Regions from separate parts of the Homo sapiens genome. Here region 1 is linked to region 2. Evidence: fine-mapped expression QTL. A gene starts in region 2. The other region holds a variant in brackets. All regions are shown on one strand. Distances are from middle to middle. Region 1 overlaps INTS3 (integrator complex subunit 3). Region 2 holds the start of NPR1 (natriuretic peptide receptor 1).

Evidence for each region. PIP is the estimated chance that this variant, and not a neighbour inherited with it, causes the effect. A credible set is the group of variants that fine-mapping cannot tell apart.
Region 1: its variant is the best candidate, but not a certain one, in a credible set for the expression of NPR1 in esophagus muscle (GTEx, PIP 0.52).

What each region holds. Positions count from the first base shown.
Region 1 is chr1:153,739,193-153,744,192 of GRCh38, forward strand. INTS3 (integrator complex subunit 3) reads left to right here. Exons shown (of 30, transcript NM_023015.5): 2 at 1,459-1,542; 3 at 2,093-2,176. Among named protein-coding and RNA genes, the nearest start is that of INTS3, 14 kb to the left of the region's middle. The variant G/A (reference allele first, on the strand shown) is at 2,584.
Region 2 is chr1:153,676,196-153,681,715 of GRCh38, forward strand. It overlaps NPR1 (natriuretic peptide receptor 1), which reads left to right and starts at 2,493. Exons shown (of 22, transcript NM_000906.4): 1 at 2,493-3,634; 2 at 4,306-4,505; 3 at 4,985-5,098; 4 at 5,509-5,520. The coding sequence starts at 2,914. RefSeq lists enhancers at 1,730-2,711, 2,712-3,692 and a silencer at 3,234-3,293.

The sequences.
Region 1 (5,000 bases), 63 kb after region 2:
AGCTGGGACTACAGGCGTGTGCCACAATGCCCAGCTAATTTTTGTATTTTTAGTAGAGACAGGGTTTTTTCACCATGTTGGCTAGGATAGTCTTGATCTCTTGACCTCGTGATCCACCCGCCTCGGCCTCCCAAAGTGCTGGGATTACAGGCGTGAGCCACCGCGCCCGGCCGGAGTTTCACTCTTGTTGCCCAGGCTGGAGTGCAATGATGCAATCTCGGCTCACCTCGACCTCTGCCTCCTGGGTTTAAGCAATTCTCCTGCCTCAGCCTCCCGAGTAGCTGGAATTACAGACATGTGCCACCATGCCAGGCTAATTTTTGTAGAGACGGGGTTTCTCCATGTTCGTCAGGCTGGTCTCGAACTCCCCACCTCTGGTGATCCAACCCCCTCGGCCTCCCAAAGTGCTGGGATTACAGGTGTGAACCACCGCACCCAGCTAATTTTTGTATTTTTAGTAGAGACAGGGTTTCACCATATTGGCCAGGCTGGTCTCGAACTCCTGACCTCGGGTGATCTGCCCACCTCAGCCTCCCAAAGTGCTGGGATTACAGGCGTGAGCCACTGCATCTGGCCTAAGTCCCTTTTATTTTATTTTCTTTATTAAAATATATTTTTTTGAGACAGAGTCTCGCTCTGTCGCCCAGGCTGGAGTGCAGTGGCATGATGTCTGCTCACTGCAACCTCTGCCTCCCGGGTTCAAGCAATTCTCCTGCCTCAGTCTCCTCCTCCTGAGTAGCTGGGATTACAGGCGCACACCACCATGCCCGGCTAATTTTTTGTATTTTTAGTAGAGACGGAGTTTCACATGTTGGTCAGGCTGGTCTTAAACTCCTGACCTTGTGATCCACCTGCCTCGGCCTCCCAAAGTGCTGGGATTACAGGTGTGAGCCACCGTGCCCGCCCTATTTTATTTTATTTTTTTGAGACAGGGTCTCGCTCTGTCACCCAGGCTGGAGTGCAATGGCGCGATCTCTGCTCACTGCTGCCTCTGCCTCCCGGGTTCCAGAGATTCTCCTGCCTCAGCCTCCCAGGTAGCTGGGATTACAGGTATGTGCCACTGCGCCTGGCTAATTTTTGCATTTTCAGTAGAGACGGGGTTTCACCGTGTTGGCCAGGCTGGTCTTGAACTCCTGACCTCAGGTGATCTGCCCACCTCGGCCTCCTAAAGTGCTAGGATTAGAGGCATGAGCCACCACGCCTGGCCCTAAGTCTCTTAATATATGGGTTTCCCTCACTTTTTTTCTTGCGATTTATGTGTTAAAGAAATCAGGTCACCTGTTTATGGTTTCCACATTTTAGATTTTGCTGGTTTTATCCTCATGGTGACTTTATAAGTAAACTGGCAGCTAGATCAATGGGCATGATCAGGTTTGAATTGTTAAACTTTTAGGGGCCCAGAAGTACTTCCTAAGTGGTGTTATGACACACTGTTCATTTTTTCTCACCCCTTCCCAGAGATTGGAAAGGTGTATGAGCATTGTGACATCGATGACTGCTGGTGTCTCGGAGAGAGAAGCCAATGATGCCCTCAATGCGTATGTAAGTAGAATGCTGTCCCTGCAGCCACTGCTGCTGCTGTGAAGGTCTTGAAACATGGTCAAAAAGATGGAAAGACTAAGTGGTTGGGGGTAGGGGACTGAAATTCATCAAGTCTTGGCTCCCTGAATCAAATTTCTCAATTCTTCTCTTTTACTGTGGGAGCCTATCTCTTGGAGCCTTGGGCATCTTTCAGTACAGCTTTTTATTTTTATAGCAATGTGGTCTCGCTATGTTGCCCAGGCTGGAATGCAGTGATTGTTCACAGGCATGATTATAGTGCACTATAGCCTTGAACTTCTGGGCTCAAGCGATCCTTCTGCTTCAGCCTCTGGAGTAGTTGGGACTACAGGTGTGCACCACCACACCTGTCGTCCTTATCTCTCTTCTTTTTTTAAAAATCTCTTTTAAGAGAAGGAAATCATCAGATTTAAAAGTTGATTATTCTCCTTTGCATCTTCCTTAGGAGTCCCATGTTTTCTGGGAGAAACTGAGTTTGAGAACTTACTGCCTGTGAGTGACAACTAGTTTGTTTTCCTTTCTCACATTCCAGGTGTGCAAAGGCCTCCCCCAGCATGAAGAAATCTGCCTGGGCCTGTTTACTCTCATCCTCACTGAACCTGCCCAAGCCCAGAAGGTAAGGCACCCTGCTCTGGACCCATAAACCCTCCTCATATATGATCTGGGATATGGTGGAACTTACAGTTTAACTGGGGTAGTATGAAACTCTTCGACCAGAGCTGGATCACCTTGTTCTCCAAATATAGTTACAAGTCCCTTTTTACTCAGTGAATTGGTCATCCTCTGACTAAAGTCCTTTCTCTATCTCCAGATTCTGAAGCTAAATGGCAGTCATGAAAGTGAAAAAACAGAGTTTTAAATTTTAAATTTATGAGGCAAGGCTAAAAGGGTTGGGATTAAATCCAGGGAATAGAAGAGAACAATTGTAACCAAGTCCATGAGAGTTCTTATCCAGAAGAGCATGGCCTGTAGTTTGCAGATTCTGCCATTGGCAGGTGAATAGAAAGCAGGCTTAAAATTTTA[G/A]TAGGTAGGATTTAGATGAGACAGCTTAATGTTACATGATTGATGCAGTAAATAATGTAGTGATTAGGAGAACACTGGAGTATACTGGAGTCAGACTTCCTGAGGAATATTGTATGAAAACTTGTCTGGGGTTCTTCACAAACTGAAGAGTCCCCTTTATGTGGAACGGTTCAAGTAGGTTCCCTCCTTGAGGTGAGGGACTAGGCAGGGTGATCTCTTTGAATTCTGTGAGATAACTTGGATGTCAGAGATGGTGTCATTTGTTCAAGGGGAACCAAAGGAAAATCATTTCCGGGGATAAGAACAGGATGCTCATGGTTCCTTGGCATAGCTGCTTGAATTAACCTCAAGGGAAGGATTTATGGGCATGGGAAACTGATCTGTTTGTACTTCTGATGCCAGCTGGAATAGGGTCTGGGGTGAGGGTGGGCAGTGAGGCAGCAAGTATTCACAAATTCTTGGTTTCCCAGGAAAGCCAAGCCCATTCTGGGCTGGGACCTTGTCGAGTTAAATTGCTGTTTCATTTTTATACTGAATTTATCATCAAGATCCTTGAAGACAAATGAATGTTTCCAGTTGGGTGGTTTTAAAGAGTGATATGATCCAGTCCAGCACATCCATTTTAAAGAAATTGTTGGCAAAGATGAGAGTAGATGGGATGGAGTTAAAGTTTAACTTCCTCTTGTGTGGGTTTTTTAATCTCTGTGTGTGTGTGTGTGTGTGTGTGTGTGTGCGTGCGCATCATTGGCTGTGTGTGGGTTTTTATAAATACCATTCAAATTCCATTTAGTCATCTCAGTGCAAATTAGTCTTGCCTGCTGGAAAGTTTTGTTTGTTTGTTTCAGGTGATCTGAACCAACCTGGGTAAATCAGTAAACCTAAGTGAAGGGGGCAGAGTATGTGTGGTATTTCTAGCTCTTTGCCTGGCCTATCAGTAAGAGGCCACTGGGTTCTGCAGTGTAAATGCTTATTATGTCATGAATTTGGCCATCCAGACACAGCAAGAGACTAGAGTATCTCCTCTTCTTTTTGCCCTATAACAGCCCCATGTGGGAGGCCCAGGCCCTCTGGGGAAGTGAAGCATTTGCCTCGGGTCTCATAGCTGGTTGACACCTTTGCTAGCATTCATGTTCACATGCTAAAAGTTTCCAAGTAAATCCCCTACCTGTGAGCCTTCCTGGGCCAAGCCTCCAGGTCAGGCCTCTTCAGACAAAGGCAGTAAAGACAGAATTAGGAGGACACAGTTTTAGGCGGGTGAGGAACTATCAAGTAGTGACTCATTCAGAGACCTTGAGCCAGGTCAGAGCATGATGGAAGAATTAGTGACGTATCTCCCTAGAGCTTTGCTCCTTCTCCCTAAAAGGGTGATTATTTTGTAAAAATACTTCTGTCCTACAGAAGTTTTAGGTGGGAGTTACTGATGAGGACTGATTGTAATGCATCATTTTAGGCTTCAGCTTAAAGCAATGGGACTGTTTTCTAAGGATTTGTATTTGGGGTTAATTCTGCCTTTGGAACAGAAACCTCAGGATGTATTTGAGATTTAGTTGTTCTTGAATCTTCATGGGCTGAGATGGGAAGTGGATATGGTGGAGAAGTGTGGAAACTGAGTCTTGAACAAATAGAATACTGCTATAAGGAAGGTTGAGCTGAGGAGCCTCTGTTAGTACTGGCAGGCAGGTTCAAGGAGTTAGGGCCAACTCTCTGGGACTTAGTGGGTGGGATTAGGATGGATTGAACAGGTGAACAAGAGAATTCAGTTAAGGAGAAAGCAGGTCAGTATTGGGAAAGAGTAGAGGATGCATGGGGTGGATTTTGTCTCACTTGTACCTTCTTGATTTGCATCAGCCCTCTTGGCAGCCCTTAGGAATGTTTATATCCTTTGAGTTTATTTATTTTCTATTTGGTGTCTGAACTAAACAGCTGGGAGCAGGCCTGGCTGGGGAACTGTGGCAAGGAGGGAGGCTAAGGTAGAGTCCTAAGCTGTGCAGGTGCTGGCAGTCAATAGATAAAGGTAATGGGAAAGGGTCTAATGTCAAGGTCTGTCTTCATCAAAGGGTCAAGGACTCAGGCCCAGGCAGCTCTTGGTCTAGGTATTTCTCCCAGCAGGCAGCTCTAGAAAGAAGCTTGGGGGCTCTGGGGCCTAGGCTGACACATCACTGCTCTTGACACATTCAGGATAGATGCCATCCAGTCACCAGTCACTTTTACTTTTCTTTGAGACTCTCCACTTCTCTTTTCCTCACTGAGGGTGTGCATGTGCGTGTGTGTGTGTGTGTGTGTGTGTGTGTGTGTGTGTGTGTGTGTTTCATCTGCTGCTTTTCCAAGCTGGTCAGCAAACCGACACAGAGGTCGGTAACACAACTGGCAGCCTTAGGTGTATGAAACTCTCGGTTCTCATTTGTTACCAGCAGTTG
Region 2 (5,520 bases):
TCCAACACTTTTAGTTGTCTGTAGCTTTAGGGCTAGTTCACCATTATTGAAAGGAGCTCAATTACTAAACTATATTTCTAGTCCAGTCATTTCTTCTGAGCTCCAGCTCCACTAGTCCGAGGCCTATCAGACACTTCCACTTGATTATCTATAGGCACCTCACATCCAATAAACTAAAAGTATCATCCTTCCAAAACCTTCTTCAGCTTCTCAGCTAATGGGATCAACATCACCTAGATCTGTTATTTGTATAATGTCCTCACTTCCCAAAGTTCAACTGATTCTACTTACAAAACATCTCCCCATCTGCATCTGCTGTCTACCTCTACAATCTCTGGAATCCGCCATCTCCATTACAGGACAAGAACATTATGCCTGTCACACAAAAGCTTTCATAATCTTCCCTCCACTGCCCTCTTCCCTGCCTCTCTTCCTCAGTCATCCTACATGCACACACCTTACATCCTAGATCAGGGCTGAAAACACAAACTCCTACTACAGCCAGGCAGGTAATGCACCTGAGTGAAGCAGGGTGCCTAGGAACCATAATGAACTAGACTCATTTCAAGGAGATAATGGATACTTGCTCTGGTTAATTGCTCATGGAGGGATGCAGGACAATATATTGCCAGCTCTTCCAATATTTTAAGGAAAGTCAGAAATCCAGGTTGGGCCTGGTGGCTCACACATGTTATCCAGGAATTTTGGGAGGCCAATGCAAGAGGATCGCTTGAGCCTAGGAGTTCAAGACCAGCCTGGGCAACATAGGGAGACCTCCATCTTTGAAGGAAAAAAAAAAAAAAGTCAGAAATCCAAATATTCATGTACCATCTTTTTTTTTTTTTTTTTTTTGAGACGGAGTCTTGCTCTGTTGCCCAGGCTGGAGTGCAGTGGCGCAATCTCGGCTCGTTGCAACCTCTGTCTCCCGGATTCAAGCAATTCTCTACCTCAGCCTCCCAAGTAGCTGGGATTACAGGCGGCCGCCACCATGTCTGGCTAATTTTTGTATTTTTAGTAGAGACGGGGTTTCACCATCTTGGCCAGGCTGATCTTGAACTCCTGACCTCATGATCCACCCACCCTGACCTCCCAAAGTGCTGGGATTAGAGGCTTGAGCCACCTTGCCCGGCCCCATCTTATGATATTTAAGTGTGGGGAATTAAATACAATATACATAAAGAGAATGCAAGCCAAAGCATGCCTGCCATCTCAAGTTGGCCTATCGACCACAATTTGCTCTAGATAATAAGAATATTCAAGTCTCCTAAAATTCCATATATAGGAAATGTACTTCAACATTCTGCTCTGTCTACACAGAATACCTTTCTCATCCTTCCATCCTCTTGAATTATTTCTTTTTTGGAGATTTTCTGGCCCCAATCCAAGCAGAATGAATAGCCCTCATCTGAGTCCTTTAGCAATTTATCCATGTCTCCCCTGTAGTGCTTAATGCATGTTGCATTACGGTTATTTGTCCCAAATGGAGCTCCTCAAAGGCACGGACTATATATATTCATCTTTATGCCCTCGGCACCTAGTGGGTGCTTAATGCACCGAAGGTTCTCTGGAAATGTTTGCTGACCTGAAGTTTGGTGATCTTATGTCCTGCTTAGGCGCAGCGTTGGAGAGGTTGGCGCTGCAATGCCGTCAATAACCCCCGATGACCATTAGAGGGCACACTGATTCCACAGCAGTCTGCACCGGGGGCCCAGCTGTCAAGTGCTCCAAAACCCACTCCCCAATTTACGCCTCCAGTGGTCATCTCCCACAGCCTTCATTTTAACAACCCTCAACACAAAACAGTCATTTTCTTGGGGCGTCCCTGAGGTGTGAACCTCCTCCCTCCCAGACACCCACCCACTCTCCCCATCTTCCTACAATTTGGGCGCTAAAGATTTAATTCCTCTCTGACACCAGATCATTTTTTCACAGCTAATCTGCACAGTCTGGAAGGTGGCAGGGAGGGAAAGAGAGGGAGATCATAGAAGGAATGGGTAACAAGCACTCTGGGCTCACCTTCAACTTTAACGGACTTTCCAGAAACCCGTCACCTTCCACCCCACACCCAAACACACACATCCACGCACTCACTCAGTTTCCTGCCAGGATCCCAAACCAGCACACCTTTCCCTCTTCCCCCGAGGAGACCAGGTAGGAGGCGAGGGAAAAGGTGGGGCGCAAGTGGGCCCCGGTTGCTTCCACACACACCCTCCGTTCAGCCGTCCTTTCCATCCCGGCGAGGGCGCACCTTCAGAGGGTCCTGTCCTCCAAAGAGGTAGGCGTGGGGCGGCCGAGACCGGGGAAGATGGTCCACGGGGAAGCGCGCGGGCTGGGCGGCGGGGAGGAAGGAGTTAAAGATCCTGGATTGGCTCTTCTGTCACTGAGTCTGGGAGGGGAAGCGGCTGGGAGGGAGGGTTCGGAGCTTGGCTCGGGTCCTCCACGGTTCCCTCCGGATAGCCGGAGACTTGGGCCGGCCGGACGCCCCTTCTGGCACACTCCCTGGGGCAGGCGCTCACGCACGCTACAAACACACACTCCTCTTTCCTCCCTCGCGCGCCCTCTCTCATCCTTCTTCACGAAGCGCTCACTCGCACCCTTTCTCTCTCTCTCTCTCTCTCTCTAACACGCACGCACACTCCCAGTTGTTCACACTCGGGTCCTCTCCAGCCCGACGTTCTCCTGGCACCCACCTGCTCCGCGGCGCCCTGCGCGCCCCCCTCGGTCGCGCCCCTTGCGCTCTCGGCCCAGACCGTCGCAGCTACAGGGGGCCTCGAGCCCCGGGGTGAGCGTCCCCGTCCCGCTCCTGCTCCTTCCCATAGGGACGCGCCTGATGCCTGGGACCGGCCGCTGAGCCCAAGGGGACCGAGGAGGCCATGGTAGGAGCGCTCGCCTGCTGCGGTGCCCGCTGAGGCCATGCCGGGGCCCCGGCGCCCCGCTGGCTCCCGCCTGCGCCTGCTCCTGCTCCTGCTGCTGCCGCCGCTGCTGCTGCTGCTCCGGGGCAGCCACGCGGGCAACCTGACGGTAGCCGTGGTACTGCCGCTGGCCAATACCTCGTACCCCTGGTCGTGGGCGCGCGTGGGACCCGCCGTGGAGCTGGCCCTGGCCCAGGTGAAGGCGCGCCCCGACTTGCTGCCGGGCTGGACGGTCCGCACGGTGCTGGGCAGCAGCGAAAACGCGCTGGGCGTCTGCTCCGACACCGCAGCGCCCCTGGCCGCGGTGGACCTCAAGTGGGAGCACAACCCCGCTGTGTTCCTGGGCCCCGGCTGCGTGTACGCCGCCGCCCCAGTGGGGCGCTTCACCGCGCACTGGCGGGTCCCGCTGCTGACCGCCGGCGCCCCGGCGCTGGGCTTCGGTGTCAAGGACGAGTATGCGCTGACCACCCGCGCGGGGCCCAGCTACGCCAAGCTGGGGGACTTCGTGGCGGCGCTGCACCGACGGCTGGGCTGGGAGCGCCAAGCGCTCATGCTCTACGCCTACCGGCCGGGTGACGAAGAGCACTGCTTCTTCCTCGTGGAGGGGCTGTTCATGCGGGTCCGCGACCGCCTCAATATTACGGTGGACCACCTGGAGTTCGCCGAGGACGACCTCAGCCACTACACCAGGCTGCTGCGGACCATGCCGCGCAAAGGCCGAGGTGAGACGCTGGCACACCCCGTCCCGCCGCTTAGCCGCAGGGCCTCCCCTCTGACCTGCCGGAGGCATCGGGACTTTCTCTCTCATCTGGGGGCACTCTTCTTTCTCCTCGCCGTTCTTCATTCTACTTTCAGCTCCCTGGCCCTTTCTACAGCTGAGTTTCTATTTCCCTCTCTTCTTCCGCCACCCCCACCACGTCTCTATCCTCTCATCTCCCCGACCCCCACTCATTCCCTCCCACCCTAGCACAGCTCGGTTCCGGTCCCTTTTTCCCTCCCACATTTTCTCTCTTCCCTATAGCCTTCTCCCTTCTTTCATCCTCTCCTCTCATTGCGCCTCATCCCCTCTCTTCTCCCCCTCCCTCTCCCTCCTCTCTCCCTCCTGGCCCCATCCTTCTCCACCTTCAGCTCCACTATCCCCCTCTCCCTACCCGTTCCTTCCTCCCTTCCGCCTCCCCCTTCCTCCTCCCGCCCACCGCCCCGCACCCGCCCGTTCCACCCTTCGACTTTCTCCTGCTGTGGCCTAGGCTGAGCCGGGAGTTACCACTTAACTCTCACTGGGTCTCTCCTGCACCCTATCTCTAAACTTCCTCCCTTGGGTGCCCCAGCTTTCCTACTCCTGTCTCTCCCGCAGTACCTAGGCTTCTCTCTCTGACTCTCCGTCTTTCTCCAGTTATCTACATCTGCAGCTCCCCTGATGCCTTCAGAACCCTCATGCTCCTGGCCCTGGAAGCTGGCTTGTGTGGGGAGGACTACGTTTTCTTCCACCTGGATATCTTTGGGCAAAGCCTGCAAGGTGGACAGGGCCCTGCTCCCCGCAGGCCCTGGGAGAGAGGGGATGGGCAGGATGTCAGTGCCCGCCAGGCCTTTCAGGTGAGTACCTAGGTTTGAAGCCCAGGCTGTCTCAGCTTGTGGCACATCATTTCTGGGCACTGTGTCCCTCAGCGTCTGAAAGAATTCCAGAAAAGAGGTTTTTGTCTGTTTGTTTCTTTATGCACTCCTGGTAACTCACAGAACAGAAAAGAGGTTGGTGATGCTCACTGGGAATTAGGCAATGAAGGGCAGGGGACTGCCCAGGGGCGCTTCGCCACCAGCAGGCTAAAAAGATAAGAAAATGGGCTTGAGGCGGGAGGAGGATAAAGTCCCACAGCCTGGACAGGACTTGGAGAAGGCATCCCATTGGATCCCCTGCTTTGGAATGGGCATCACTTCATGCAGGGCATAGGGTCCAGTTTGACCTTGAGCTAAGCAGAGACGCAGCTCTGGGAGGTGGGCTCCCAACTGTTGGGGCCCCACAGTACTAGGGAATAGTCAGCTCCCAACTCTCTGCTCTCCACTGACCCCTTTCTCAGGCTGCCAAAATCATTACATATAAAGACCCAGATAATCCCGAGTACTTGGAATTCCTGAAGCAGTTAAAACACCTGGCCTATGAGCAGTTCAACTTCACCATGGAGGATGGCCTGGTAAGAAGGGGTCCCGGGACCCTCCAGCGTGGACCTCCAGCCCCCACTCCATGACCCTCTGCCAGCCTCCATCCTTCCCTATTCCCAGTTCTCCCCTTCCTTCCCTCCCTTCCCATTGTTCCATGTTTCTCGTGATGATGGAGGAGGACACTGGCAAGTTCAGCCTCTGAAACTCAGGTCATCATCAGTAATATGGAGACGATACATCCTGCCCTGTCTACCTAGTAGGATTCAGGAAGTGATGCTAATCCAAAGGCATCGTTTAAATAGTAAAATCTCCCTGTGATATAGGGGTGTTATTTTCTCCCATCCTCTTCCAAAATCCCAGTGCCTCTTGTTCCCTTCCCCACAGCTCCCACCTCCATGCCCTTCATATGCCCACCCCAGCCGACCTCTGTTTGCCCCTACAGGTGAACACCATC